4 separate regions of the Homo sapiens genome follow, and all the other regions are linked to region 1. The links come from fine-mapping of genetic effects on plasma protein levels. A gene starts in region 1. Each other region holds a variant in brackets. All regions are shown on one strand. Distances are between the middles of the regions.

The links. PIP is the posterior inclusion probability: the model's chance that the variant is causal. Protein levels are from antibody-based Olink assays in UK Biobank. Linkage for the fine-mapping came from a reference panel and not from the study's own genotypes, which makes the PIPs less certain.
Region 2: its variant is fine-mapped to the plasma level of the NRCAM protein (UK Biobank, PIP above 0.99).
Region 3: its variant is fine-mapped to the plasma level of the NRCAM protein (UK Biobank, PIP above 0.99).
Region 4: its variant is fine-mapped to the plasma level of the NRCAM protein (UK Biobank, PIP above 0.99).

Annotation. Positions count from the first base shown.
Region 1 is chr7:108,449,357-108,457,499 of GRCh38, forward strand. It overlaps NRCAM (neuronal cell adhesion molecule), which reads right to left and starts at 7,080. Exons shown (of 33, transcript NM_001037132.4): 1 at 6,887-7,080.
Region 2 is chr7:109,486,987-109,495,129 of GRCh38, forward strand. No RefSeq gene overlaps it. Among named protein-coding and RNA genes, the nearest start is that of LINC02903, 610 kb to the left of the region's middle. The variant A/G (reference allele first, on the strand shown) is at 3,877.
Region 3 is chr7:108,798,550-108,806,692 of GRCh38, forward strand. All of the region lies in intron 2 of LOC107986836 (a long non-coding RNA gene), which reads left to right. Among named protein-coding and RNA genes, the nearest start is that of LINC02903, 82 kb to the right of the region's middle. The variant T/C (reference allele first, on the strand shown) is at 2,937.
Region 4 is chr7:108,275,856-108,283,998 of GRCh38, forward strand. All of the region lies in intron 3 of NRCAM (neuronal cell adhesion molecule), which reads right to left. Among named protein-coding and RNA genes, the nearest start is that of LAMB4, 150 kb to the left of the region's middle. The variant C/CTTCCTGTTTA (reference allele first, on the strand shown) is at 4,448.

The DNA of each region.
Region 1 (8,143 bases):
CCCAGCTCCCCCCTCCCTTCACTGAAAAGGGCCAAGACAACAGCCCAGCAAGTGGGGCAGGCAAAACAGGCCTCCTTTGTTCACTTTTGTCCTTTCAGCTCTCTATTGAGGTAAGGGACTGAAAAGGCACACCAGGTTTTGGAAGGCAGCAGCGGACTCGCTCGCAAGCCATCCTTCCTCAAAGAACCAAAAAACTCCAGGACAAAACTCTTTGGACAGGCCACTCTTACCTTAAGGCATAATTAATGGGAGATTAGTACTTCCCCTTTCCCTTGAGAGAGAATCTGTTAGTGGTGTTGAATATGAGTCTGTAAATGTTCATCAAAAATGCATGCCATAAATCATGCCATTCAAATGCCAAGGACATCAAAAAGTGGCATGAAATTAGCTTTAAAGTTGAAATTTGGAGAAAAGATCACTACATGCTGAATACTCATACTGAATTTTTTGAATGCTCTCAGCCCACTTGAGAAAGATAAATCAAATTCATTGCATATTACCCAGTGGAAGACCTCCTACAGGATTCCCTCAGATTGCCCTAGAAATAGATTTTTTTTTTTTCTGGTTACAGTGGGTTTTGAACCAACACACTATGCACATAATAAAATTTAAACATATATATATATTCAACATATATATATTCAAAATATAGTTTCCAGCCCTTCCTACCATTATTTAATGAGAAGAATTTCAAAAGGATCATTTTTGCCTGACAGTACCTGTCATTTTCATTCTCATGTGAATTAAACCATGTTTTAGTCCAGGGCAATATGGAAGAAATTCGGAGAGCACATAATACAAGTAAGATTCATCATTCCTGTGTTCGAACTGAATATGCCATTAGGACAGTATGTGAGTACAGGAGCATTAGTGGTTATAATTTGTTCCCTTTACCACTGGCTTTTTTTTTTTTTTATCTTCACTAGCTTCTTAGTCACTTGATGGAAACCCTCCATCAGACTGTTAAAAATTACCTTTTTCTAATTTGAAATTCCAATCTTGTAGGCCAGTAAAATAGGTCAATTAAGTTGACACCACATCTTTTTTATTAGCTCAGCTAAGCAATTATAATTGGGTGGTGAAGGTTTATGCTGTCATCTTGGAAGATTCAATGGTAGGGAGAAATGCCCAATGTGGAACTATAATTTACAATGCCAGTACATCCCTAAACATTCAGCATAAGAATATTTCTATTTTCAGATATGAGGCAAATTTGCTCTTGTTCTAGATTAAAATAATAATGCCATTTTTTGGCAGTAAAAAAAGCATATTTATTTAACTTATCCTCATAGCAAAATCATTTAGCACAAGTGTATTACAGACATAGGTACTTTAATTCAACATTTTAGAAAAATACCATGAATGTATGCCATCAATGCTGGCTTATCCTGGACTTGGACTACAACACATATGCTCCACAACATCAATTTCTTGCTTTGCACAAAGTATGTAATCAATTAATACTTGTTGAAAACCATATACCTCCATATTAATAAATGTTAAACCAATAAATTAGAAATGCTGTGAATGACTTGTTCAGAATATATAGATATTAATTTACAGCTTTAAAAGATAACAGTGGCTGGGCGTGGTGACTCACGCTTGTAATCTCAGCACTTTGGGAGGCCAAGGTGGATGTATCACCTGAGGTCAGGGGTTGAAGACCAGCTTGGCCAACCTGGTAAAACCCTGTCTCTACTAAAAATACAAAAATTAGCTGGGCATGGTGGCAGGTGCCTGTAATCCCAGGTAATCAGGTGGCTGAGGCAGGACAATCACTTGAACCAGGGAGGCAGAGGTTGCAGTGAGCCGAGACTGCAGCATTGCACTCCAGCCCAAGTGACAGGGCGAGACTCCGTCTCCAAAAAAAAAAAAACAAAGAAAGAAAAAAAAAGTAACAGTGATTGCACTTCAAACCTATTAGGATGGCTATTATCAAGAAAACAGAAAATAACAAGTGTTGGAGAAAATGTGGACAAACTGGAACCCCTGCGCATTGTTGGCAGAAATGTAAAATGGTACAGCTACTATGGAAAAGAGTATAACGATGTCTCAAAAAAAAATAGAACTACCATATGATCTAGCAGTCTCATTTCTGGGTATATACCCCAGAGAATTGAAAGCAGTGACTCAGATATTTGTACATCCATGTTCATGGCAGCATCATTTGCAATAGCCAAAAGATGAAAGTAACCCAAGTATATATGACATATGAATGGATAAACAAAATGTGGCATATACATACAATGAAATATTATTCAGCATTACAAAGGAAGGAAATTCTGACACATGGATCAACCTTGAAGGCACTATGGTAAGCAAAATAAACCAGTTACAGAAAGACAAATAAATACTGTATGATTCCACTCATATGAGGTACTTAGGGTCATCAGATTCATAGACTGGAAGTAGGATGTTTGTTGCCAGGGGCTGGGGGCTGAGGGGTTATGAACTATTGTTTAATGTGTACAGAGTTACAATTTGGGAAGGCAAAAAATGTTCTGGAGAGGTATAGTGGTGATGGCTGCACACAATGTGAATGTACTTAATGCCACTGAAGTATACACTTAGAAATAGTTTAATGGCATATCTTATGTCATATATATTTTACAATAAAAAACTTAGCAAAAACATTTTTTAAATAAACATATTGCATTTGCTGCCCCATTTAAAGACAACCTGATAATGAAGGATTTACAGTTGCTGACGCTGAAGGCTGAGCCATTCCCCTATTTCCTTCCTCAGGTAGCCTTCAATTTTAAGAGAAAAAATAAAAATTTGTCAATTCATTTTGGTACATCTTCCTATTCTTAGAAACTTCAGTCAAACTCATAGAAGCAGAGAGTAGAATGGTGATTGCTAGTGGGTAGGGGAATTGGGGAGATGAGATGTTCTCACCACACATACACAAATTAACTGTGTGAGGTGATAGATGTGTTTATTAGTTTGATTGTGGTAATCATTTCACAATGTATACATATATCAAAATATCATGTTGTACATATTAAATGTATACAACTTTTACTTGTCAATTATATCTCATTAATGCTGTGGGGGGGGGAAGAAACTTCAGCCTTTGATCCCAATAGAGGCTGTTTTAAACAGAAGGAGCTTTTCATTTGCCAAGGCAGTAAAATGTTTAAGTAAAATAAGTCACTGGATTTTTGCCCTTAGCATCCAGTTCTCTCCTCTGTCCTCACCTGCCAGGAAGGTTCCTGGAAGGGATGCTTCAGGTAGGGAAGCATAAAATTTTAAGGGAAAAGCATATCTAAATGTATTTAGTAATTTTCAAATCACTTCCTCTTCATCAATCATTGCAACAGCTGAAGACTGAAGTAAAGCAGTCTTTTGATTCAAATGCACAAAACTTCCTAAAGAATATGTTAGAAGCTCTACATTCCAGTTAAATTTGCTATGGGTTACCGAGCTTCTCAGATGGTAGGTACTCTTTGAAAATGAGGATGAGATTCCAATAGCTGCTGATCTATGGTGAGAATATAAGGAAAAAGCCTCAGTGCCTCAGTGGTTACCCTTTGGGGTGAGTAATGACTGGAAGGGACCACAAGAGGGCTTTCTCAGATGTGCATTACACTGTTCCTTGATCTGAGTGCTAGTTAAGTCAATGTGTTCAGTTTGTGCAAGTTCATCGGCTATGCATTTGTGATATGTGAAAAAAACTCTGTGTGATGAAGTATGTAGCTAGATGATAAAATTAGAATTAATCTTCCCAAGGACAGATATTCTGTTTGGTCACCACTGTATCCCCACTGCCTGGAACACAGTAAATATTTATTAAAGAATGAAGGAATGAATGAATGAAATCTTTTTAACGGAAAAGCTTCCTGTAGAGTTCCATTCAACAGCTCCTATGTACATACACAATATAATATCTGTAGAGTCTATTTATATTCAATCTGTTACACAGGGAAAATTACACCTGCATGAAAGCATTATTTGAAATGATTCTTGAAATTTTCTACAGCCCAGGTGTATACATTCTCAGGACCCCCTCACACTTCTGAAGCACTTACACCTAGCGATTATTGCCATCATTGTTGTATTGGCCTCACAGGAAGTACTATTTCCAAAGATGCTTTGCTTTCTATTCACTGTTACCGTAGCATTAACAAAAATGATGTGGTGTAAGGGCAATGGCCTTCAGTCCAAAGACCTCATCACTACCCTGCATTACGAGGCTGAGCCCTATTGCAGTTGTTTTGAAACTCGAAGGATTAGTTAGATACAATGTTGCCTGAGTCCTCTAACAGCTCTAAAATTCCTGGATTATGTAAAATGTTTAGCAACTTTCCTGTAATAAAGTAAAAAGAAGGTTGAAACAAGACTATGAGTCAGTAGGATTATGAATGCAAAATAAATCAATTTTTCCAATTGATCAGTTAATTATAATTCTAAAAGCTATTCCAGAAATAGCTGATTCCACTTTGGTTCAAATTTTCCTTTTTTACTAGTTAACATGGAGCATCTTCATAAATGCCCCCACATGTTTCTATATATTTAGGAAATAGAATGATTTCCTAAGATTGGATGCTAGGGTCCTATTCAAACTCAACATCCAATTTGAGGAGTAACTCATTTGCAGTCAAAACCGTGTACAAAGGACATTCAGGGCTGGGGACCTTTTCTTTAAAGAAAAAAAAGTTTTATGAAACTTTATGATGTGCCAGGAACATCTATGTAATCACAGAGGCCCTGGTTACTAAGAACATGTTGTTCAGTGACTGTAATGGGTTGGATTGTGGGTTAACAGCCACGTACTTAAAAGCTAACAGGAATAAAAGAATATGTAAAGGAGTTACATGGGAATAAAAGGCTATTCCACAATACAGTTCTCTGAATCACAATATTGCCTGCTACTGTGAGTTCTGCAGAGCTCCGAATTAAATGGGCTTGTAATGTATCTCCCTGGTTTTGAACACTCAGTGGTTTAGGTTTCCCCTAAACTGATAAGCCTCCAAAAGGCCACAGTCTCAGTCTTGGATTGTAAAGCACAAGGACAAAAACAATCCCACTCCCCTACTTCCTAGCTGTGTGGCCTTGGGAAAGTTACTTGGTTTCTCTAAGCCTTCATTTCCTAATTTTTAAAATGGGGTTGCTGTGAGAATTAAATGAGATGATACATGTAACATGCGCAGCGCCCAGCACATCTAAAGCTCTCAAAACCGGTTGGCTATCGTTACCATTAAAGCAGCAAGTATCAGTTGCCTAACTCCATTTCAGTACTTCAGCAAGTACTGCCATTATTACAATATTTTAACAGCAGGGCATGGTTAGCACAATGCAGTCCCATAAAGCAGCCCAGCCTCCGAGGTTTGTATTCAGAGGTTACTGTGTTCCTTTCCAGGACCACCCCAGGGGGAGCTCCTGGTGCACAACCAATGCTTCCTGCCTCATTACACTTGGCTCCATCTCCTCCTGCAAAAGCCTGGGGCGAGGAAGAGCCCAGTCTCTTAGACCCGCACTTCTGAGCGTTAACCATCTGGGACTCGGAAAGGAAAAGAAAGCTTTCTTCTCAGGACAGTTCTGCGCCGGTGGTAGCCAAGGGCTGGAGCCCCTGATGCGAAGAAAAGGGAAGGAGAGAGGCGGGGTGCGAAAGAAACGCCACCGCTCGGCGCCCTCCCTCGGTGCCCGCGGCGCAGGGGCCACCCGCCAGCGTACGGGGGACGAAGATGTGGCCGCGGGCGCGGGCGGGAGGGGAGGCGATCCGGGGAAGGAAGCGGCCTGTTCGCCAGCCCCGGGGCCCGGGGAGCCCTCCAGCAGCGCTTGCGGCCCTGAGGACACCGCTTTGGGAGAAATGACGACTCCCTTGCTCACCCTACTGCGACACCCCGTCCCCCTCCGCACTCTAGCAGATGCGGGCCGGGAGTAGCTGAGCTGGCCAACCGCCTGGGACCAGGATGCGGCAGCGCCCACCCGCGCGGCGTGGAGGGGGCCGGGGGCGGCGCTCGGCGCAGATGGCGCTCGCTGCGAGATGGATGCTCCAGGGCGGGTAATCACTCCTGGCTCAACACAGCATCCCGGGCGGAGCGGATGCCAGATCCCACCGCTAAGAGCCTGGGCTGGGAAAGCAATCTTTCCAGGCAGCCCCCAGCCCGGTGCGCCGGCCCCGACAAGTCCCAGCCCTCGGAGGCAGGGCGGGGCGCAGGGACTCCCGGGACCCGCACCTGTAAGGCCGACAAAGCCCCCGCAAGCGCCCCACCCCTCTGTCCTCCGTGTCTCTCTCGTTCCGCCTCGATTCCCCGAGCCCTCTCCAGGCAGCGACTGGAGAAGCGAAGTCGGCCTCGCCCCCGAACTCCGTGGTCAGCACAGGTGTACGCACTTCCGAACAAAGCCCACGCCCAGACGTGTCCGCAGGGGCCCGAACAGGCACACGCCCGTGCGCTCCCGGCCCGGCCCCCGCGCTCCTCGCCCCGCCGGCACTGTGGCGTGACGCCCCGCGCCTCCGTGTCCAAGCCCGGGAAGCCGCCGTGCCGGGCCCGCAGGCTCTCCATGCCCAACTGCCCACGAGCAAGAGCTCTGGGCAGGGCTTCCCGGAAAGCGTGGGGTGCGGGCGCGGAGCAGAAGTTGGCCACAGGCTGGAGGGGGTGGTGGGTGCCGGCGCTGCTGGATTTCAGCTGTGCCTTCACCCAAGCGCAGGTCCCCCTGCTCCCTCTCGGCGCCCGCGGGAGTGTCGGGGGCCTGCAGGGGAGAAGGGAGTTGGAGATCTGCTTTGCCCCTCCTGCAGCGCTGCCAGCCCGGTGAGCGCTCGGCTGAACCCCGCGGCGGTGTCCAAGTGACAACGCAGCAGCCTCGCGCGTCCTCCTCCGCTCCAGCCGTCACCCCCGAGCAGGACCCAGTGTCACCGCCAGACGCGCAAGGAGCTACTTACGTTCTCGCGCCGCGCCCTCCGCTCAGCTCTGGCGCGACTGCCCAGGACCCTGGACCGCCGGTGTCCTCCGTTCTCGACGAAGCTATCCCCTCTGGCTGCTCCAGCCAGGCGGCCCCTGCGCCGTCCCCCGCGCCCGCGCGTCTGAGGCTCGGACTGCGGCGCGCGTCCGCCAGCGACCCTGGCGAAGCGAGGCTGGCCCCGCGCCGGCGCGCGCCCCCGCCGCTCCCGCCCTCTCCGCTCCCCCTCCCCGCGCCGTGCTTTTGCCCCTCCCGGCTCTCCTTAGCGTCCTCCCGTCCCCCTCCCCCGCACTCCCTGCGGGCGTCCTCCGCCTCCTCCCCTCCTGGCCAACCCCCTCTTGCCCTGCTGCTGCGACGGCAGCGAATGGGCTCCAGCCGCCGGCGCCTCGAGGGACTGGGTGGCCCCTCACCTGAGCGGCCGCCCCACCGCCAACCTCCGTCAGCCTGCGAGCGCGTGTGGCGGCGGGGGTGGGGGTGCGGGGACGGAGGGCGGGAGTGTTCCGGGGCTAGGATGGCTGGGATTTAGCTACAAAAGATGTTCCAGAAAATGGGTAGTTTTTGAATGCCACTCTCATGGGTTTAGCTTTCTGTGGGAGGTCTGTGGTCTTCTAGTTTTTTCTTTTTTAAAAAGCACTTTCTTCGAAATTCATCAGTTGGGGTGGTTGAGATTGGGTGAGTGGTTTTGGGGGTTTTGTTTTGTTTTTGCAACCGTTCTTTCCAAACACTCCCCGCCGCCCCCCACCACCGCAGAAAAAAGAGCTTTTAGCATAAGGCGGATGCTATCTATCCGCGGTAGAAACTGGGTCTTCTGGTCCCAAGGAATAGGGTTAGTTCGGATTTGCTTATTTACAAATGGGGGAGTATTATGGAGATTTTTTTTTTTTTTTTTTGGCAATGTAAATCGAGAATTAAGATTTTCCAACTGTATAGTATTTGAGTAAACACACTGCTTGCTGCATAGTTCAGGCTCCGAAGCGCACGTCTCCACTCTATCGTGGATGGTGTTCAGGATCCTTAGCCTGACCCTTGGGTCCTCCGTAATCTACTCCGGTCTGCACACAAATTACTTGTCTGCTGGGTATCACCCGACTTGACCACTTACAGCAGGCTCCAGCGCTTAGTGAGCTCAGCGGAGCCTTGATTCCTTCAGTTCTCTAATTCAGGAAAACATTTTCTGAGCTCCTCACCACCCCACCCCACCTCACCACCTCCTCCACCCCCAGCCTCCAAGGTGCTGGGG
Region 2 (8,143 bases), 1.0 Mb after region 1:
TTTTGGAATGGGGGTGTATTTTAAGGAGGCAGATGTACAAAAATTTAGAGCATGAACTCTAAAGTTTGAATTGTACCACTTGCTATGTGATTTTGAACAATTTAAATCTGTGTTTCAGTTTTCTTTCTGTGAGCCTTGGCTTAGAAACAACTACTTTAGAAACTTCTCTTGAGGATGACAAGAGAGACTATATGCTTACTATGTAATTTATCAAAACTTTATATCTAGTAAATAATCAGTAAAAATAGTATGACTGTATCTCTCCCTAATAAAAGTATGCAAAAAGATCTGTTAGGTGGTTGTTGCAGAAGAAAGAAGAAGTGATAGCAATATTCCCTACCCAACCCCTAAAATTTGGTTCTTTTCCAGGGTTTCTTGTTTCATTGAATGGTTCCATCATCATCCACTAATACGAGGCAGACATCTGAGAACTATCTTCGGCACTTCTACCTCATTCCTCATCTGCCCCTTATTCTATCTAAATCAGAGTCCTATGTCTTTTTCTCCTTAATAAATTTCAAATGTATCCACTTACCTGAATCTTTACCACCCCAACTCTAGACCAAACTATTAACCATTATTGTAATCTCTTACTTAGCTTAATTCAAAGTCCTCTTCATTGTCTACCATAGGTAATTCTTACCCTGTCATCTCCATTGACAGCTTCTATTCTCTTATCAAACTTTTCAACTATTACCATTGCATATAGGACAAAATATAATTCCTTCAATATTCTTTGCAATCTGGCCCAAATCTATCATTGGTTGTGGTAATTAACTAGGAAGGGGAAAAAAGTACATTCATTAAATCAAATTATATTTAAAATTTAGACCAATTCTCTGTTACTGAACTGGCAAAAGGAGGCCATTTTGTGTTTGTGGTGAACATGCACTACATTATTACAAGGATGAAATTCTTTATTAGGATTAGGAAAATTATACTAGAACATTGAAATGAGCAGCATATCAGGTGGTGTGGGGCTCTAGAAACAGGAAATCAGGGACAGGATGAAAGGAGACCTTGAGCAGTCACCTTGAGGTGAGTCTCACATTGGCATAGGCTGAACTCTGTGCATGGAAAGCACAGGGAAAGTTTGGATGCTGCAGATTTAAATTCAGGCCAGGTGTGCAGACATCCAGCAATGAATTAAGGTAAATTATGTGATTGGCAGAATAAGGTGGGGGTAGTACAAACTGGCTCAAGGAGCTGTTGAATATGAAAACTAGGGATGAAGCAAGTTCAGGAGTATGACCAGAGCTGGATTCTGAACACGCAGGTATGCCCTACTGCCTCATCCCCCTTCCCATCCTTATTCTGCCATTCTAAATATGATCTAATTACATAGAAATTCATTTTGAGATTATGCATATTACTTTTTTCTATGTTGCTGCAGACTATGTTCAGTAGTTCTTAATTTTTACATGCAATTAGAATCACCAGAGAAACTCCTAGAATTTCTGATTCAGTGGGTGTGGATTAGGGCCCAAGAACCTGCATTTCTAATGAGGTTACAGGTGATGCTGATGCTATCTGGAGACCACATTTTTAGCACGACTGGGATATATTTAAGTGTTGTAAAGATATAGAAAAATCCTAATTCATCTGAACTCCCTTTGGGGAGGGCGTACTGCATATTAGGAAGAAATATTAGTGTTTGGAGAGGGGAATGAGACTCCAAAATGTATGCTTAACAGGGTGGCTTCTCATTCAGATACTACTGTTCATTAGAAGCCTCTTTGCTTTTCTGAGCTTTGGCATGAATTGGGATATGCATGTCTGTGGAGCAAAGCTAAGGCTGAATTTAATCTCTCAACATTAAAAAGAGACAAGGAATTAAAATATATCAGAAATAGAGTGGAGAGGGGCCAGCAAGAATTCATGCAGAGAGGAGAAGAGAAGCAAAAATAAGTCTCTAAGCAATCGTAAGCCCCAAGTGGAACTTAGCAAAAGGAAAATGTGTAAGGGATTTTTAAGCAATTAGCTCTGGGTAAGTGAGATTATAAATGATCAAAAATGCTTTGAAGCAAAAGAATCCTTTGCCCCAGTTGAAGCATAGTGCTGTGTGGACACAGGAATCAGAGGATGAGGGGGAAGCCGATAACTGGTTAAAATAGTCTTATAAAATAGGATTAAAATAACAATTTTACTATTTAAATTAAAGCTGCAATTATGATGATATTTTCTCTGTCATATTTTAACATTTGCTATGTATGCACCCTTTTCAAATGAAATAAACATTTCAAAGCTGTCAACTGATAAGAAATTAGAATTATAAATCTCAAGAGCTTGTGGGACAAGTAGATCAGGTAAGAAGGAATATTCCTTCAAATGATGAAAAATAAACAAGTTCCAACTCATTTAATATCCCATGTTTCTAGAGACAAATTAAAGTCAAGGTCATAATATCTAAGAATATTCCCTTGTTCATAGTCATTAATTCCCAGACTTATTCATCTTTGCTAAAATAACAAAGTGCTGACCTGACTAGTTAATTAGATAAGCAAGAAGAGAAATATTTTACAAAAACAAAATAGTAAATGATCTGGAGATCTTTGTTTTTAAAATAAAATCTTCACCTCTCTTTTTCTAATCTTAGAATATATACCTTTATGGAAAAAGTAAAAATATAGAAAATTAAAAATCATAAAATAAAAATCAGCTGCACTGCAAACTGGTACAGATATTTTGGCATATTATTTACTTATATCTGTTCTTGTACACATCACAGAAAAAAACAATTAAATACTCTACATTCAAAACTGCATTTATATGTCACTTTATTTTTATTTTTGACTTTTCAGCTTCAGATGTTTCTCATATAAGCAGTATATTCTTAAAACATATATTGCTTTTATCCAAATCAGATAGATGTTCTTTCTTAATGGGAAGTTTAATTATTTTCCATGTGCTGATATTTGGTATGTTATTTTTATGTATTAGTATTTATACTATTTAAAATTATTTTCATTAATTGTCATATTAATTATATAGGTATATATTGGTCACATTTTTAAAATGATTTAGTGTTTATATAGTAGAGTTTAAAATATTACATGTGATTAAATTTATTTTCAAAGTTGTCATGTTCAGGATGAATATCATTACTTACAACTCCCTCAATGTAAAATGAAGAATCTAGTATAATATTCTCTTGCTCTCCAATTTCTCTCAAAGAAATATGAACTCAGTATATACACTCAAGTCATTATTATTAATTTGGGGGGGCATCAACGTTTAAGAATCATTAATGATGTTTTCTTTTTGTGATTTCATTCCCATATTGTCAAATATTTTTGTCCCTCATACTAGCATTATGATACGCTAGTATATCCCCTGGCACACTGGTGTGCAAAAGTATTTGTTGAATTAATAAGCAATCTAAACTTAATATAAAATAGCCATCACAAAGATGAGAGATACAATCAGGGCTTATGCCATTCTATAAATCCATTCTTCTCTATTTCGGAGTTTATATTTTCAATTAGTGCATTTTCGGGGCAGGTTACATAGATCATTTTTTATTCTGTGTTCTAATTTTGTATGTCCAAAAATCTTTTCACATTGCCCTTCTACATTAATGACAAGGTAAAAATAAACCAGGATTGAATGAGTTTAAAATAAACCAGGGTTACATGAATTTTCCCTAAAAGTGGTCTCATTATTTATATATGTGTGTTTATTATTTTATTTTCTTTATAATCAAAATTCAAGCCTTCTTCAAAATATGTCAAATGAGTGTTCTTTTAGTATTATTTGAACCTGGAGTACAGTGAATTCTTGCAGTCAGCAGTTTACTTTAAAAAAAGTAAAACATCCTTTTTTATGGCTGCATAGTATTCCATGGTGTATATGTGCCACATTTTCTTAATCCAGTCT[A/G]TCATTGATAGACATTTGGGTTGGTTCCAAGTCTTGCTATTGTGAATAGTGCCACAATAAAAATACATGTGCATGTGTCTTTATAACAGCATGATTTATAATCCTTTGCGTATATACCCAGTAATAGGATGGCTGGGTCAAATAGTATTTCTAGTTCTAGATCCTTGAGGAATTGCCACACTGACTTCCACAATGGTTGAACTAGTTTACAGTCCCACCAACAGTGTAAAAGTGTTCCTATTTCTCCACATCCTGTCCAGCATCTGTTGTTTCTTGACTTTTTAATGATCGCCATTCTAACTGGTGTGAAATGGTTTCTCATTGCGGTTTTGATTTGCATTTCTCTGATGGCCAGTGATGATGAGCATTTTTTCATGTGTCTGTTGGCTGCATGTCCTTTGTAGGGACATGGATGAAGCTGGAAACCATCATTCTCAGCAAACTATCGCAAGGGAAAAAACCAAACACCACATGTTCTCACTCATAGGTGGGAATTGAACAATGAAAACACTTGGACACAGGAAGGGGAACATCACACACCGGGGCCTGTTGTGGGGTGGGGGAAGGGGGAGGGACAGCATTAGGAGATATACCTAATGTTAAATGGCGAGTTAATGGGTGCAGCACACCAACGTGGCACATGTATACATATGTATCAAACCTGCACGTTGTGCACATGTACCCTGGAACTTGAAGTATAATAAAAATAAAAAAAAAGAATTTGCAAAAAAATGGGCATGGACATTCTTCGTAAACAATAAAATACAAAAATAAAAAATGAAAAAATAAAAAAAGTAAAACATCATGGAAATATTTTTGAATATCACAACATGTTTCTGTTTTCTTTATGCCAGTTTATGTCTTAAAATGTAGTTCATCCGTGATTTAGAACTACACTCTCTCTATATTCTCTGCTTTTGATATTCATCATGTTTTTCACAGGTATTGTGTTTAAGGATATTTTTAGTCTATTTTCCAAATTGTGGATTTGACTTTGCGTATGACAGAATCTGTTCTTTCTTAACTCTTATGCAAATATGTTTTCTGCTTACGTCTTTAGTTTCTTAGCATTTGTTGTATATATAAACCAGTTCTCATTTTATTTAATCTTTAATACCTTATTTTAGGCAGACTATTATTTGTTAATATTTCTGAAAACTCAAACTGAATATAGTCTTACCTATACTGATGTATCCTGTAGTAAATAGTTTTTATAGTTCTACTTTCCTTCTGCTTATTTTAGGGAAACAGTTCCATGCTCATGTTACAGAATATCTTACAAGCCTCTCTGTCTATATATATTTTTTAAGCCTCTATATTTTTATTTTTCATTTTCCCCACCCTCCAATGTATACAATTCTAAAGCAGTAGAGATCTACTTTGATTAAGAGGTTGCTGATTGTCCCTCTATGCTTTATTTATTTCCACAGATGTTTATTTCTGAGATCTTAAGTTATATTATTTAGATAAGTTTTGCTTAGGGCTTACTTTCCCCACTTTGTATTAAGCACTTATATCATGTAGTTCTGCTGCCCTGACATGAGGATTTTACATTTTTTCATAGCCTTTTTCTGGTCTTAATTTGAAGCAATCTGTAGGTTTTGTTTTGTTTTGTTTCTTTGCATGCAAACACTATTCTTTCTAGAGCATACAGCTGTCTGTGCTCATTTCGTTTTTCCTTTATTTTACTTTAGATGACTTAACTCAGAATAAAAGGCACCATGACAGATCCCCTTCTGTCTCAGACTGTGTGGCCTTATAGAATTGTCTGATCTGGTATATAATAAGTAGTGACGCTGAGAGGAGGAAGCAGTTCTCCAGCAATACACAGAGGCTTCCTTCAGGAGGAAGACTGACCTAGAATCTTTGATGGCACAGGATCTAAGTCTTCGATGTGGAAGTGAGGTTGGGAGGAAGGCTTCTTTTTCTTTTTTGTTCCCCAACTCTTTTGTTATTTCAGAAATCAGTGCGAGTCGCTATTTTACAATATCCAAATCTGACCCATTCATTTGTTTGAAAATTCTGTTATCCTAGGTAAAAGAAGCAGCATGGCTCAATGCATTGTGGCTTGAGGAATCATAGTGATTCTAGGAACTAAAATGTAGTCAGCTGCACCAGAGCACGTCAAGCGAGACTATGATGCAAAACAAAGCTAGAGGATCCAACAACACAACGCATCTTAACAGGTGTAAAATATCAGCCCTGTTTAACAAATGTTGCCTTTCTCCTAAGAACAGTGGTGAGCCATCGATTTCCAGTGGTTTTCCATTTTTCCTAGAGTAAAAACCAGACTCCTCTCCCTGACTCATGAAGTCCTGTATTCCAACAGGCTTTGCCTGCCTCCCTGGCACCATCCACTCTATTTCTCCGACCTGCCCTAGCAGCACTGCTCCTCTCTCCATTTCTCAAAGATGCCAAGCTTGATCTCACCTCAGAAATTTTGCACAAATGTTCTATCCTTCACAAAATTTTTATGTGGATATTCATGTTTGCTCACTCTTGTCATTCATAGAGACATTCTTTGACTCCCTGCCCCATTCTGAATTTTTCTTTTGTATTAACTAGCTGTAATTTTCTGCAGAGTCCCTATCACTAATATAATATATATATATATAGAGAGAGAGAGTAGCGATGTGTGTGTGTGTGTGTGTATAAAACATACATATTATTTATGTTTTGTTTTGTTTTCTTTGCGTGCTTATTGTCTATTATCTCCACTCACATAAGCTCTGTTCAAATGGAGGTCTTGCCTATCTTGTTTACTGTTTTGTTGTTGTTGTTGTTGTTGTTTTTATCAGGGAAAAGAAAAGTATGTAATATTAAGTATGAGCTCAACAATATTTATCATATGCTAAATGGAGTCTTCTCTTCCTGGCTTACATAATAGGATGCATATATGAAGTTTCACAAAAATAGAAAATACTAGAAGAGGCCCAGGTTTGCAGTGAGGAGTTGGGAGGGGAACATAGTACATTGCAAATGAGATACTATTGGGACAAAAATGAAACAGGACAATTACTTGGATGTGGGTAAGAAATATCACTTGAATTGTGAACAAATGATACTTAGGTCTTGAGTGAAGATGGAAATACCTAGGAAGAGATTATGGGTTCAGATCATGATATTGTTTTATAAAGCTTCTGCACACATTTAAAGTCAGCGATATTCACAACACTAGTGGTAGTCAAGGTTCTCATAAAAGTTGATAATGATGATGGTGATGATGATGACGATGATGATGATATGTGTGCATAAACTTGGAATTCCAAAACAAATTCCTAGGATTTGAATCTCAGCTTTGTGTGACTCTTAACTATTAGTTAACTCTCCTGTCTCTTACTTTCCTCATCTATAAAATGGGGTTAATAATGCTTTACACCATATTGGTTTCTTACAAAAATTAAGATAATAAGACATCTAAAACTAATGCCTAACCAGTAGAAAATTTATGCTAGTGTGGTAATTATAAACATTTTTATGTCTCTCTCTTTTTCTCTTTCATACTGGTATATAGTTATATATCGCAAAATGAGCAATTCGAACTGAAATAGGCAATTTACATGGAAATGTACATATAATTGTGTAATCAAAACACCAATTTAAATATAAAACATGTCCATCACCCCAGAAATTCACTCAAGTCTCATTCTACATAATAACCTTTCTTCCTAAAGGCAAATCCTATTTGGAGTTCTGTTTTGCCTGTTTATGAAATTCGTAATAACAGAATCTTACGATATGTACTCTCTCGTGTTTGGCTTTGTTTGCTCACTACAAAGGTTTTGAAATTCTTCCATAGAACATACATAGTTCATTCCTTTTTATTGTTAAGTGCCACATCATCATGTGAAATTATCAAAATTTGTCTCTTCATTCTTCCATTGACAAAATGAGTTGTTGCCAATATTTTGCTATTCCAAATAAGGCTTCAAAAGTCACTTTTGTAGAAGGTCTTTAGTCTGACATATATTTTATTTTACTTTGGTTAAATATATTAAAGGGCTGGGTGCGGTGGCTCATGCTGGTAATCCTAGCACTTTGGGACGCCGAGGCGGGCGGATCACCTGAGGTCAGGATTTCAAGACCAGCCTGGCCAACATGGTGAAACCCCATCCCTACTAAAAATACAAAAGTTAGCCAGGCCTGGTGGCCGGCGCCTGCAATCCCAGCTACCTGGGAGGCTAAGGCAGCAGAATCGCTTGAACCTGAGAGGCAGAAGTTGCAGTGAGCTGAGACCGCACCACTGCACTCCTGCCTGGGCAACAGA
Region 3 (8,143 bases), 350 kb after region 1:
AAGGTTGAATATGAATTTGAGATATGTATGAAAAAAAAAGACAAAACAACTGAAGCCTATTCCGTGAGTGGAGCAGTGTGAGTGTCTCTTAGGGAGAAGCCCTTGTACAGTGTGAAAGGAATTTTCTGCTGTCTTTGAAACTTGCTTCTCTCTAAGGTATTTTGTGAAATTATTAGGAACAGAGCAGGGCTCAGCTTTAGTAAGGTTTTGATTAGTGTTTGAAAAGCCTTCAGAGTTTGTCTTAGATGCCTATAATGGGTGAAAGTAAACTGCATATCATAAATCATACCAGTTTATTAGTAGTAGGTGGAATAAATCCTGAAGTGAGTGAACAGAGAATTAATGAGAGTGCTTTATTCCTAAAGCACTTTATAAGATATATATGCAGTGAAGCAGCTGCAAGTAAAAGGTCTGGCAAGAGGTAGAAGAGGGAGGATACTGAGTGAGGTGTCATTCTCTGAAACTACAGGTATTTGCCACCAAACACCTTGATTTGGGGACCTGGGTTGCTCAGTGTTGCAAAAATAGCAGGTTGTGTGTCTGAAGAGATTATACAAAACGACTGGCTGAAAAGGGTCAATTGTTGTTTTTAAAAGTATTTATCCTGGGTTCCTAGCATCCATGAGCTGAATTTGTTCCTCAGAATGCATTGGGAGACCGGCAAGAGACTAAAGGAAAACCAATATGTAAAATGAGAGCTCATGAGTTTTGTTACCCCTAACAACCCCATACTGCCTCTTCCTAGGAGTCACTCTTATTTCCCAGGTCTCTCATGGCATCAGGATTTTCCTCCTCCCTGGCCCTTTAACAGCTTGTCAATACACGCAAATGTCCACATACTTAACAGCTATTATAGCATCCCTTGATCTTGAGTCCCCCTCCCGCTCAATATTCTTTCTATTTTTTTGTAGCCAAATGGGAAAGAAAAGTCTATTCTCACCACCTTGGCTCTCCTCAACTTCCTGGGATTCTCACATCCATTACTGTGCGGAAGTGGGCTTCTCCCAGGTGACTGGTAGCCTCCCACCAACAATATCAGTCGCATCCTCCAGGATCCTATGGCTTTTGAGTCACTACCATCTCTCAATTTTCCTGTTAACTTTTTGACTACTATTTATCAGTCTCCTTCCAGGCTTCTTTTACTTTTTGGAAGCCTGTAAATGCTGATATTACCAAAGGATGAGTTGTTGGCTCTGTGACACTCTCATTCTCATATTCACTGCCATGATCTCAAATATCATGATTTCCACAAATTCTATCTCTAACCTAGACTTCATATCTGAGCTGCCGATTATCATCTTCACCTGGTTGGCCTTAAGGGCATCTCAAAGGTCACACAGCTAATTTCTATCTTCAGGTAAGTTTTCTCCATCCTCTTAATAGAATTACTTTGCAGTCACTCCTGCTGGAAACCTTGCCATTTTTGACTCCTCCTTTTCACACTCCCGGGAATCAATCAATGAGTCTTGCTGATAGCACATCAGAATTAACATCGCAATTTCCTTTCTCTTCCTCTGTTGTTTCTGACATTCCCTTCATATGTGTTGCCTCATTTCTCAACTAGTTTAAATAGGCTCCTAATAATGTTTTTCCTCTAGGCATCTCAATTCTTCCCTGCACTTCTACCATATTACTTTCTCTAATCATGTCTCTTTCCTTCTTAAAACAATGAATCTGTATCAAGAGCATCAAGTTAATTACCATGGTGTTTAAGGCACTTCATAATCTGTTTCCAGGCAACATTTTCAACATTGCATTGTTTTTAACATATACATTTCTTTTCCACCACACTCTCAAATCTTGTCTTGAACTCCTAAGTATTGAATCATACTAGACTACATGTTATCACCCAAAATATGCTGGGTGCATTTGAGCCTTGATTATTTTGCATATACTTTCTCCCACCCCTCATTTGGAATTTAGTGTTGCTGTTCTTTGCCTCCTGGTCTCTCCTTCTTCAAGCCCAGCTCATGTGTCCTTGCCTCTGTGTAAACTTCCTTAACTCCCAATTCCAGAGGCAGAATGAAATCCCATTCTCCCCTCCTCCCCCTCCTCCCTTCTCCACCCTTCCCTTCCCCTCCTCCCCTTGCCTCTACCTCTCCACAACTCCTTCCCCTTCCCTCCACCTCTCCTCTACTCTCTCCTCTTCTCTCGCCCTTCCCCTTTCCCCTCCCCTTCTCCCCTCCCCTGGTCTCCTTTCCTCCCCTCTTCTCCCCCTTCCCCTCTCCCCTCCTCCTGTCCCCTCCCCTCCTTTCCTTCCCTCCACCTCTCCTCCACTTCCCCCGCTGTTGTCCCCCCTCCCCTTTCCTCCTCCTCTCCTCCACTCCCTTCCTTCCCCCTTCCCTCCCCTCCTCTCCCCTCTTCTCCCCTCCTTTCCTCTCCTCTTTTCTCCTCCTCTCTCTTCTCTTTCTTATACTTCGAGAAATCATGGAGCAATGTGGAAAGGTCATGAGTTCTGATGTCAGAACAACTTCAGTGCCATTCATAGCTTCTCTACTTTCTAGCTCTGGACATTTAGTAAGTTATTTAAACTTTCTTTTTTTTTTTTTTTTTCAATTAAACCATCTGTAAAAGGGGTTGTTGATATGTGTCTACCAAAGATGCTAATATTTATTGAGAGTTTACAGTGTGCTAGTTACTCTTTGAGGCTTTTGACATGAAGTAACTCATTTAATGAAGAGTAGTTTTAAAGAGTCTATTGTATCATAACCATTATGCCAGCAGCAAAACACTTATCACACAAGGTCACTGTTCCTGATTTATGAGGATCTTGTACCCCTCCAGAATGTGTTCTTTTTGAAGGTAGAAACTAACTTCTTCATCTATCACCTTGTCTGTCTGGCAAAGCACTAGCATAAAATAGGTGCTAAATAATCACAGAGCCATCAGCAAAGCAGAGTTGGCTGTTGAACTGATATTGTATTAGATGCGACTTT[T/C]TGTTTGGCAAATGGGTTTCCATATTCATACCTAGGAATATTCTAGTGAAGAGTAAATACAAAGACAAGTTTTAAAATGCTATCTCTCTGTATTAAAATAAATACAACAAATCACTTTGTGGTAAAGTTTCTTAAATATTTTTAAATAAATGCTAATTTTATCCCCATATTGACACATGCTCTTATTTTTGATAGGACTATTTTTGTATGGGGCAGAGTAAATAATTAAGATTAAAACTGGCCAGGTTTCTAGTGAGAGAAAAAGAAAAAATGTATTGTATTTGGAGTTTTGTGAGTTTTAAAAAATTGCTTCATTTTGTTTTAATGATATCAGATTGGTGAAATGTTCAATATTGACATTTACTATTATAATTTGAATTTCTTATTCAAATGGCAAATATCTGATGGGAACTCAGAATGCTCGACTAGGCCTGTTCCATTGGGTCTTTAGTTAACCCGGAAAATGGAAGAGTCAGTCAGGATTGGGAATCTTGAGGGTCCCCATAGAGAGATTGTTCTATATTCCATATCTGTTTCATGATGATCCAAATGAGTCAGGAGAATGGGGTCTGGAGGCAGGGAACTTAAGGTCCATTTGTGATGAATCAAGGAAAAACATCAAGGCCCTGGGGCAGGGAATCTGCGGCCAATTTATGCTGACTTCCCAAAACTGGATCAAAAGGAAAACACCTGGGTCTGGGAGCAGGGACCTTAAGGCCAATTAAGGCAAACTTCCAAAAGCTGAACCAAAAGGAAAAACCCCATCTCCCCATGTCTAGTAACAAAGGGTCAAAGGCTACTCTCCCTACAACCCTACCGTTTCAGTTTCACCGCTTCTCAGATGGAAAGGGATAGTGTCCTGGATTAGCTGTGGGCCAAGCAGGGACCATCCCTTCATTTGCATAGGGCACCAATTCACCTCAGCCTTTAATTAGCCATAGGCCAAATCCTTCATCCAGATAAGGAATAACTGGTAGGAACCTCAAAAGGAGTACTTAAAACACAGAGAACTTTATAACTGGGCCCTCGAGCTGCTTGCTCGGCTGACTCCCACCCTGTGGAGTGCTTTCTCTCTTTAATAAATTCCTGCTTTCGCGGCTTTGTTCTTGTATTTTGTTCTTTTGTTACTTTGTGCATTTTGTGCAATTCTTTGTTCAAAACACCAAGGACCTGGACAACTTACACTCAAAGCTCTTCTTCTGATAATACAAGTAGACTGAGAAAGATTTGGGTGTTTTCTTTTGTTCATAAAGGAAAGGGATGTTGGGGTAGAGGCATATATCTGATTGTCCCTGATTCTGCTTGTCAGAGATTGTTTTGCACCACCCCACTTCACGGCAAAGCAAACAGAACAGGTCCTTTAAGGGGCATTCCAAAGAGGAAGTATAGGCATGTCGCAAAGTGCTAGGGAAACTCCATCCTGAAAAGTCAAGTCCCCATTAAAAGGAAAGTACTAAGTAAAGAAAAGGAATTTGGAAAGAAAATAAAATAGGACTATAACTTGGGTAGCTTGTTATTATTATAAAAGTCTCTTTTTTTTTGAATAGAAGAAGTAGAATTTAAAAGTTTAGGATCGTTACTCATTGGGGTCTGCTTTCTAACTCTCTGCTGAGATTTACTTATCATCTAAAAGCTGATGCCCCAGATCACTAGCCCAAACCTGTTTCTTCAGCTCTAGATCCATACATTCAACAGCCTAGTAGACTTCATACTTTTATGTCTCAGAGACAATTCAGCCTAAAACAAAACTTAATTCTTTCCCCCTTCCCCTTCTTTCTTCCCTTAAATTCCTATATTTCCAAGCTCGGTGGATGGCATTATTGCTTAGCCTCCTCCGAAGCCAGAAATGTAGGGATTATCCCAGATTTTTTTATTTCTCTGTATTCCACATCCGACTGGTCAGCAAACCTTATTCAATTGACCTCTGATATGGCTTGGCTCTGTGTCCCCACCCAACTCTCATCTTGAATTGCAATCCCTGTAATCACCGCATGTCAAGGGAGGCACCCAACGGGAGGTGATTTGATCATGGGGGGGCGGTTCCCCATGCTGTTCTTATGATAGTGAGTGAGTTCTCATAAGATATGATGGTTTTATAAATGTCTGGCATTTCCTGTGCTTGTGCTTCTCTCTGCGGCTGCCTTGTAAAGAAGGACGTGTTTGCTTCCCCTTCCACCATGATTGTAAGTTTCCTGAGGCCTCCCAGCCATGCAGAACTGTGAGTCAACTAAACCTCTTTCCTTTATAAATTACCCAGTGTCGGGTAGTATCTTTATACCAGTGTGAGAATGGACTAATACAACCTCTTTAGTATCTCTAAATTCAGGTCATATTTTCCCACTCTATCCTCACTGCCTTTGTTTAGACCCACGTCATTTCTTGTCTTAAAAACTGCAGCAGCCTGGGTCATCATGATATCTATTTCCTTGCCTGCATAAAATAGTGGGCCCTCCCTCCCTCCCTGCTTCCCTCTCTCCCCCCTGCCTCCCTCTCTCCTCCCTGCCTCCCTCTCTCCTCCCTTTGTCCTCCCTTCTATGCAGACAAAACACACAAGAAATAAAATCAAAGTTCTCTTTCTGAAATCTTTGCAATGGTTGTATCAGCCCTGTATCAGCCCTGCAATGGTTGTATCAGCCCTCATTGCTTTGATTTTGCTCTGTGAGGTGGTTTTGAGGAACAGTTTTATCTTCAGGCTGTGCTTTATGGGAAGGTTAGGGGAGCTTGACTCTAAATGGAATCTGGAAGAGAGTAAGATTCCAATAGCTTGTTCTGCCAGTTTCCTAAAGCAATAAAAACCACAAGCCTACCCATAGAGGGGTTGGACTGCATATAGGGGTTAGCAATTCTCCCCAAGCTGTATGTGTCTTCCCTTGATCTGCATTTTATTTCTCTGCTTGTCCTTCTTGGAGAGCCTACTTCTAGGGAGACAACCTGTCTGATACAGTTAGAGCATCCAGAAAACTCTCAGAAGAGCTCTCATCATTGTAGTTTTGTTATTTTCTCCTTTCTTTCTTTTTACATTTCATTTTGTTAGGTAGGAGGAACTAAGCCTAAAATTTGTTAGGTTAGGTTAGCAAAATGACTAGATGTTGCTACACTACTAATTTGTTTGTGAGATTCTCTTTCCAAGCTACGTAGATCCTGATTCTAATTAGCTGACTTGGAATTAAACTAGGTGAACTTGATTTTCCCCACAGAATCCAGTGAATTTTTTCTCCCAGTCTTCTGTGACTTCAGCACATCTGGGAAGTGATACTTTTATTATTCCAATTTGATACTTTCACTTTTTTTCTTAAAAGCCTTAAAAGGCATATGATTACCTTTAGTGTAAAATTTATGTTGAATGATTTGCTTTCCAAGCAGTGTACTGTGACCTGCCACGCTTGTCCTTTTCTACCTTCCATTCCTTCTGCCTAAGTTCCCCCCGCTCCTCAGTACCATGCATTTCTTCATCTGACCCTGTCTTATCCAATATTTAAAAGTCATCTCCAGTGCCATCTGGTCATGGAAGGATTTGCTTATTATCATTATTTCTTCCCACTTCCCACCAAACGTGGTGTAGGTAAATTTCCCATGCCCTCATAAAAAGAACCTGGTACTTACTTTTGTCCTAGCATTGGTGTACTTCTTGATCTCACTATCCAACAGACTAAGAAGTCCAAGATCACAAGTTTGACTTATTTGGTTTTGTTGTCTTGAGTCTAATACAGTGCCTGGGGCTTAGTAGTATTAAATATACCTTTGTTGACTAAATTTAAGAACCAAGTATAGGTCCCGGGGTATGCTGTTTTCAGTGAAATTTCAAACCATTTTTCCACAGGTAACCCGATACCTTCCAGTTTGTGTCACACCCTGTGAAAGACTCTTTGGACATTAAAGTTGGCCTAAATATTTCATGTAGTGCATCATATACAATTGAGGCAAGAAATTACCCATATAAATCTATGATGTTTTAGGTGACATGTATAAAGAAAGGATATTTAACATGATTATAAGTTAAGACTCATTAAATATTTTTAGAGTCTGACTGGATTATAGCTCCTTAGAGAAGAAAGAGAAAGTTCATAATCTACTATAGCTAAAGCTTTTTGGTTCACTTGGGATGGCACTGAATTAAGACCAAATGTTTATCCATCAATTGTACAAATAGACGACTTTTTCGTATATTATCAGAATAGATATTAACAAGGTTTGGTTTACTTAATTGTTCGCATTGAAATGATTGAATTGACTGAAGTTTTTCTGATCAGGTTCATGTGAAACAACAACACACAGGAATAGGAAGGGCAGGGGACAAAGCCCTCCGTCTCCCATATTGCTGTCTTATTGTCACTTTGTCAACCTTGATTTGTTGCATGAAAGTGGCGCAGTTGCAGTAAACTATCTCTCCATCTTTCATATTGGCCAAAAATGCTTGGTTTATTTACCTATTTTTGGAAAGTCTCAAAATGGAGGCCACAGATCTCTCATTGAGTGCCCAGTAGTGATGAGCTGAATCTGCCACTAGGTGTCATCGAATTTTCAAACAAATGGCTTTAAAGAACATTTCACTAAAAGCTAGCTTCAAGCCCCAGATTTTTGTTGATCCTTTTCATGGCGTCTTTGGAGTAAGTAATAATGCTATCATTCATCTGAACACATTTGATCTATTTAAATTTTGAAATTTATTTTGCCTTATCCAGCCCGTTGCATTGTGAACTGTTGCTTACAATGCGTGAATGGTACTTTTCATAATGCAATACTGATCTCGTCTTCACTTAAAAGATGTGAAAACTATTCAGAAGCACAAAACAATATATACTTAATAGACTTTCCATTACAGAAAGCTAATAAAAATTCCAACATGAATAGATTTTGCTTAGGAAATTACATTTCCATTTCTCTTGGGAAAAATGGGTACTTTATTTTTTATGTTCCTTCATAAATGACTACAAAAATTGCACAACTTCTGTGCATTCTAGAGTTGTGCAGCAATTTTATCAACTTTTAAAAAAGTGCTACTAAATTTTTGTTATCAATTACAAACTTTCCAATATGAACTCCTGATGTGTTGTTCATACTTTACCAAGGCTGTACATGCTGTTTTTCCACCAAAAAAAGGTAAGATTAAATGTAAGAAAAGGTAATCAGTAAAGCATAGCAATCCCTCACTTGCATATTTAATAATCTCTGATCACAGCAGGTATAATCGTTATCTAGTGGCATAT
Region 4 (8,143 bases), 170 kb before region 1:
CTCTTGTGGGCATTTAGTGCTATAAATTTCCCTCTACACACTGCTTTAAATGTGTCCCAGAGATTCTGGTACATCGTGTCTTTGTTCTCGTTGGTTTCAAAGAACATCTTTATTTCTGCCTTAATTTCGTAATTTACCCAGTAGTCATTCAGGTGCAGGTTGTTCAGTTTCCATGTAGTTGTGCGGTTTTGAGTGAGTTTCTTAATCCCGAGTTCTAATTTGATTGCACTGTGGTCTGAGAGGCAGTTTGTGTGATTTCTTTTCTTTTACATTTGCTGAGGAGTGTTTTACTTCCAATTACGTGGTCAATTTTAGAATAAGTGCGATGTGGTGCTGAGAAGAATGTATATTCTGTTGATTTGGGGTGGAGAGTTCTGTAGATGTCTATTAGGTCTGGTTGTTCCAGAGTTGAGTTCAAGTCCTGGATATCCTTGTTAATTTTCTGTCTTGTTGATCTGTCTAATATTCACAGTGGGGTGTTAAAGTCTCCCATTATTACTGTGTGGGAGTCTAAGTCTCTTTGTAGGTCTTTAAGAACTTGCTTTATGAATCTGGGTGCTCCTGTATTGGGTGCATATATATTTAGGATAGTTAACTCTTCTTGTTGCATTGATCCCTTTACCATTATGTAATGGCCTTCTTTGTCTCTTTTGATCTTTGTTGTTTTAAAGTCTGTTTTATCAGAGACTAAGATTGTAACTCCTGCTTTTTTTTTTTGCTTCCGTTTGCTTGGTAGATCTTCCTCCATCCCTTTATTTTGAGCCTATGTGTGTCTGTGCACATGAGGTGGGTCTCCTGAATACAGCACAATGATGGGTCTTGACTCTTTATCTAATTTGCCAGTCTGTGTCTTTTAATTTGGGCATTTAGCCCATTTACATTTAAGGATAATATTGTTAGGTGTGAATTTGATCCTGTCATTATGGTGCTACCTGATTATTTTGCCCATTAATTGATGCAGTTTCTTCATAGCGTTGATGGTCTTTACAATTTGTCATGCTTTTGCAGTGGCGGTACTGGTTGTTCATTTCCATGTTTAGTGCTTCCTTCAGGAGCTCTTGTAAGGCAGGCCTGGTGGTGACAAAATCTCTCAGCATTTGCTTGTCTGTAAAGGATTTTATGTCTCCTTCACTTTTGAAGCTTAGTTTGGCTGGATATGAAATTCTGGGTTGAAAATTCTTTTCTTTAAGAATGTTGAATATTGGCCCCCACTCTCTTCTGGCTTGTAGGGTTTCTGCAGAGAGATCCGCTGTTAGTCTGATGGACTTCCCTTCGTGGGTAACCCGACCTTTCTCTCTGGCTGCCCTTAACATTTTTTCCTTCATTTCAACCTTGGTGAATCTGACAACTATGTGTCTTGGGGTTGCTCTTCTCGAGGTGTATCTTTGTGGTGTTCTCTGTATTTCCTGAATTTGAATGTTGGCCTACCTTGCTAGGTTGGGGAAGTTCTCCTGGATAATACCCTGAAAAGTGTTTTCTAACTTGGTTCCATTCTCCCTGTCACTTTCAGGTATACCAATCAAATGTAGATTTGGTATTTTCACATTGTCCCATATTTCTTGGAGGCTTTGTTCATTTCTTTTCACTCTTTTTTCTCTAATCTTGTCTTCTCGCTTTATTTCATTAATTTGGTCTTCAATCACTGATATCCTTTCTTCTGCTTGATCGAATAGGCTATTGAAGCTTGTGTATGCTTCTCAAAGTTCTTGTACTGTGGTTTTCAGCTCCATCAGGTCATTTGAGGTCTTCTCTACACTGGTTATTCTAGTTAGCCATTCATCTAAGCTTTTTTCAAGGTTTTTACCTTCTTTGTGATGGGTTAGAACATGCTTCTTTAGCTCGGAGAAGTGTGTTACTACCAACCTTCTGAAGCCTACTTCTGTCAACTCGTCAAACTCATTCTCTATCCAGTTTTGTTCCCTTGCTGGTAAGGAGTTATGTTCCTTTGGAGGAGAAGAGGCCTTCTGGTTTTTGGAATCTTCAGCCTTTCTGCTCTGGTTTCTCCTCATCTTTGTGGTTTTATCTACCTTTGGTCTTTGATGTTGGTGACCTAGAGATGGGGTTTTGATGTAGATGTCCTTTTCATTGATGTTGATGCTATTGCTTCCTGTTTGTTAGTTTTCCCTCTAACAGGCCCCTCCGCTGCAGGTCTGCTGGAGTTTGCTGGAGGTCCACTCCAGACCCTGTTTGCCTGAGTATCACCAGCGAAGGCTGCTGAACAGCAAGTATTGCTGCCTGATCCTTCCTCTGGAAGCTTCATCTCAGAGGGGCACCCACCTGTATGAGGTGTTTGTCAGTCCCTACTGGGAGGTGTCTCCCAGACAGGCTACACAGGGGTCAGGGACCCACTGGAGAAGGCAGTCTGTCCATTATCGGATCTCAAATGCAGTGCTGGGAGAACCACTGGTCTCTTCAGAGCTGTCAGGCAGGGACGTTTAAGTCTGCAGAAGTCGTCTGCTGCCTTTTGTTCAGATATGCCCTGCCCTAGAGGTGGTATCTAGAGAGGCAGTAAGCCTTGCTGAGCTGAAGTGGGTTCTGCCCAGTTTGAGCTTCCCTGCCACTTTGTTTACACGGTGAGCACAGAACCAGCTACTCAAGCCTCAGCAACGGCGGACGCCCCTCCCCGCACCAAGCTCCAGGGTCCCAGGTCAATCTCAGGCTGCTGCACTAGCAGTGAGCAATGCTCCGTGGGCGTGGGACCTGCCACACCAGGCACAGGAGGTAATCTGGTCTGCTGGTTGTGAAGACCATAGGAAAAGCACAGTATTTGGGCAGGAGCATACCGTTCCTCCAGATACAGTCACTCACAGCTTCCCTTGGCTAGGAAAGGGAAATCCCCCTGACCCCTTGCGCTTCCCCAGTGAGGCGACACCCCACCCTGCTTTGGCTCGCCCTCCATGGGCTGCACCCACTGTCCAACCAGTCCCAGTGAGATGAACCAGGTACCTCAGTTGGAAATGCAGAATGCAGAAATCATCGTCTTCTGTGTCGATCTTGCTGGGAGCTGTAGACCAGATCTGTTCCTATTCGGCCATCTTGGAAGCGACTCCAATAATCCTGAATTCTAAAACTCCTCTTAAGGAATAATGAACTTGGACTCCCATTTTACAGATGAAAAAACTGAGGCTTGAAGAGTAGCAGTGTCTTGTCAAGGCCCATATAGAAAGTAAGAGGCCAAGCCACTGAAAGAAGGTTGTCTGCTTAGAAGGCACTCTTTCCATTATACCAGGTGACGAGAAAACACACCCAGATAAAGACTATATGGTAAGAGATGAGTTATTTGGTGTTAATCTGAGTGGGTTTCCTGGCATAAGTGTAGCATGACTAAAATCGCTGGAAAGTCTCTGATTACATGAATATGATAGTGGCAGATTTTTCCTTGAGATTAATAATAGTTTTATCAATTTTATTTCCTTTGTTTTTATTTCCTGTTGGTGAAAATATTTGACATTTTTACATACTCACAAATCTAACAGAACCCTGTTTTGTGTTTCATAATTGTTGTAGTTTGTTTCATGTGCCTTTAAACACTGATATTCTCAAAGTACAAAATATATGCATAAATACAGAAAAATATATATTTTCTATCTGGAAGTTTGGGAATTGGGGAGATTTATGCCCTCACCCACAGTGTGACTTATGCAACACTGTTTTTTTTTGGTTGTTGTTTGTTTGTTTTTTGAGACAGGATCTTGCTCCGTTACCCAGGCTGGAGTGCAGTGGTGCGATAATAGCTCACTGTAGCCTTGACCTGCCGCCTTCCCCCATCCCCCCTGCCCTCCCCACCCACCCCACCCCTGGGCTCAAAGAATCCTCTCGCCTCTGCCTCCCAAGTAGCTGGCACTACAACCATGTGCCACCACAGCCAACTGATTTTTTTTTCCAATTTTTGACAGAAGTCTCACTGTGTTGCCCAGGCCAGTCTCAAACTCCTGAGCAAGTGATCCTCCCATCTCAGCCTCCTAAAGTGCTGAGAAAACAGGCATGAGCCACCATGCCCAGCCTGCAACACCATCTTTATGCTGCTTAAAGGAGGAGAGTATTATTTGTAATTTAACAGCTACATAAATGTGGGCGGAGTGTTTTAAAGAGGAGTCTGAGCATCAATGCAGAATGGACACTGGTGTCCCACATGTTCAGCTGCACACTCCGCTTCAGCAGCCTGGTCCAACATTCACCATCAAAAACAAATCTTAGGTCTCTCCAGGTAATTTTTGTATCCAAACCATTTAATAGTGAATACAATGAAAGCCCAGAATAAAAAGACACCAACAGAATCCTGTAGGTTAAAAGCTGGCCTGATCTCAACATCAGTAGGTTCACAGTTATTTTGTTTGGTAGCTCAAAATAAAATTATTCTTCCCAACAGGCGAATGAACTTAGAAGCGCTAGCAATTCTGGCTCCTTTCACCAGAACAAGCTGCAATCTGCAATAAACAGGAAGAGG[C/CTTCCTGTTTA]TTCATATGTGAGGTAAAAGCCTCTCTTACTCCCTCTCTGCCAAGGACGATTGCCAATGCAGTTTTGATAAGTAAATAAAGAATTACTGGATGGCCAAGAACTACCACCCTAAGCATATCCAGCAGTCAGCCCATGCTATTCAATTGTGCTACAACTACCTTTAAAAAGAATGACTGAACTCACAGAATGGTAAGAGTTGGAATGGAGACCTCCCACTGGACAGCAATGAAAGATGAAACCCTAAATATATCTGAAGTGAATTTTTTCATTGAACTGTCTCAAAAATCATGATGAGATTAACCTAGAACTCTCATATTTAGTTTCTTTGGTGCTACTGAAAATAGTTTGACCGTTGTCCATTTTTAACTGGACTGGGGGAAATAACAATGTCATTGTATTTTACATAATGAAATAAAGGATCTGGCAACACAGCGCAGCTGTTATAAAGAAGACACAAATGCCACCTTAATATGATTTCTTAAATATATAATAAGCTGGGTTTTAGTCTGGGTCTGTATGCTCACTAATATCAAGTAAAAAAAATGAATTATCTTCTGCATGAAGACAGGGAAGGTAGACAGGGAGGCAATGGTCTTTTATGCTAAAAGCTCTTAAAAGTCAGGAAGGTATTCAATATTTAAAAATTAAATGATGAAAAACCTGTTCTGAAGTCCCAACAGTTTTTAGATATGGGTTCCTTTTGTAAAGGAAATAATCTGCTGTCTGCTCTTTGGTATAACACAATAAATATGATAATTACTTCATATAACAGCTTAAATTAAATTGCTTTTGAATGACTGTATTTGTTTCCATTTTTAAATATCTAAAAAATTATAAAATATAAATCTACCTTTTCCTCTTAACCTGATGAAATGAGCAAAATTCAATACCTGAGTAATTTCTTGTCTTCAATTATATAGTTGTTTACATATATAACATGAACTTTAAATATGATAATAACCTAACTACACATTTTATAAATGCCTTTACTTTTATTTTAATATATTCTTTTTTAATCCCAACACTGTGGGCAATAAAAAAACGAATGATGAGCATTATCAAAAAGTTCCGTGTATAGTAGGGGAGATAACAGGAGACTGTGCCATAAATTACTAAAATACAAGGAATAAAGGGATAAATGGTACAGGAAGGCATGACGTGCTATGAGAGTTCAGAGAAAAGGAAGCTATCTTGAGATTATGAATCAAAAAGGTTTCATGGCATAGGAAATATGTGAATTGGATCTTGGCAAAAATTTGAAAGGATGGCAGAGGGGTCTAGCTGGCTGCCCAGGAGCTAAGGGAGGGGTTATACACTTGGACCCACCAGAAAGGCAGGGTAAAGCCCCAGTGGCAGTTGGGAGGTGGGGTGTGGGGAATGGAGGGTCTCCAGGGAACTCAGAGCTATCAGCATGAGATGGCTGCCAAGCTTGGGGCTTCTCTGACCATGCCAGCAGGCCTGAGCCGGGGAAGGGGCAAAGCCTTGGCTGCGAACACAGTTGGAAGTTTTGATGGGCAAACTGGATGTAATAATAACCAAACTGGGAGTGTTTCAGGAATTCAAATGTTTGGAAGATTTTTGATTAAACACAATTGGGTGAAGTAAGTGTCTGAGATTTCTTCCAGGAGCAGAACTGCCCCACAGAGCAGAAGTGTAGGAGCAACTGTGGGAAAAATTAAAGTTGTTATGTCATTGCCCCCTGTGAGTCCTGTCTGACATAACAGTTACATAAATATGGAATAGCTTAAATAACAAGCAGCCATGTATGATCACTTATTTAGTACTTCTGGATGTACCCATCTCTTTATAAAGAGTACACAAACTTAGTAGTATAACAAAGTACAGTATAAAGAACAAAAGATATTATTATACCATTTCTAATGAAAGGACTAAAATTAAGATTTCCAACAGAGAATGTAAGCAGGAAACCACTGTTAGGATTTCTCCTGTAAAACACAAGTTGGAGCACTTTACTAATGTCTGGGATGAGCTGATGGATACCTCAGTGCTTATCTCTCTTTCTCTTTCATTTCTCTTTAAAGAAAGAAATCTATACACATTTTCTTTCTGGAGACATGATTACCAGAAACATATAACACTGGGGCAGTAGCACTCATCTACCTATTTTTTTAAAAGAAATTTTTGCTTACCTGGAACTTGCTAAGAATAAAGTTAACATGCTTATTTTTCTATTTGGTACTTGGAACAATGTTAATGTACCTCAAAATTTTAGTGTAAAATCAAATGTATTTTCTATCAAGCTAGACATTTTTATATATTCAAGGTTTTGTTGTTTTCTGGCAACTGGCCAAAGCAACCCATTTATAAAAGAAATTGGTATTTCTCTCCTGGCAGAGATAAGAGCTCTGTCAGTCATCCTTTGCGGATTGTTCTCTCATGAATTGGGGGCACAGGGAGAAAAAGAGAGAATACATGACAGTTAAAAACAAATTTATAACTACATACACATCTCAACGTAGAAACAATTAGTCATCACTAGTAAAAGACACGACCTTCAAATGCAAGTGAACTTGAAAAACAGTAGTTCTCAAACTCTACTGCACACTAGAGCCGCCTGGGGAGATTTGAAGACTCCCAGTGCCCAGGCCACAGGCCCTATCAATTAAATCAGAAGTTCTGGGGGTGGGACCTGGGCACCAGGATTTCTAAAACTCCCTAGATGATTCTAATATGCAGCCTACTTTAAAAACCAGTGTTTAAAAATGCTTCTCTGTTCCCTACTCTCTAAGTATACTGACTTTCTGTAATCAAAGTTAAAACTGTCTAAGAAAATGAACAAACAATGTAAGAATGTTGTGAGAAAGTCAGCTATACTGATTTCATATCACACATCATTAAGCTTCTAAGAGCTAAATTTTGGTGGTGGGAAGTTGGTTTTAGAATTCTTCAGATTGTTAGTGAAAGACTATTACATAACTGTCTTTAGTATGACCTAACAGTTGAATTTCAAAGTATTCTGCAAATATGATTTGTGTGCTTTGCAACTAAGCAGAAAGTACAATTACATGAGTGATCATAATATTTGGTAGAAAGTGATTTGTGTCACAGAGATGTACAGAAAAATTGCTATGATTGCCAAGGAAAGGGAGAGATGAATGCCAGATTAGTCACAATTGAAGGTGATGCCATCTGATGTGGACTTTGAAGCACTTGTTCCAGGAAAGGAAAAGGAGCAGGAGATGCGAATGAGGGGCACACGTGGGAAACAGAATGGTTCAATTCGACAGATGTCAGGAGTAAAAGGAGATAGGTTTGGAAAAGGCTGGATCACTTCCAGGAGGGTCCTGAATGTCTAAGTCTGAGGCTCCTGGTACAGAGAATGATATTATCTACCGTGGTCTCACTTGGCTTTTCTGCAGTGTGTGGCACTGTTGACCCCTTGCTACCTTCTTTTCAGTGTTCCACTCCCTTTGGTTCCACAATCTTCCTTCACATTTTAGCTCTTGAATGTCCCTTTTCCAGCTCCCCTTACAATTCTCTTACTCCATTCATCCTGTATATGTCACTCATTTCCAAATTCTTGTTTTGTTTTGTTTTTTGAGATGGAGTCTCACTCTGTTGCCCAGGCTGGAGTGCAGTGGTGCGATCTTGGCTCACTGCGACCTCTGCCTCCTGGGTTCAAGTGATTATCTTGCCTCGGCCTCCTGAGTAGCTGGATTACAGGCACACACCAC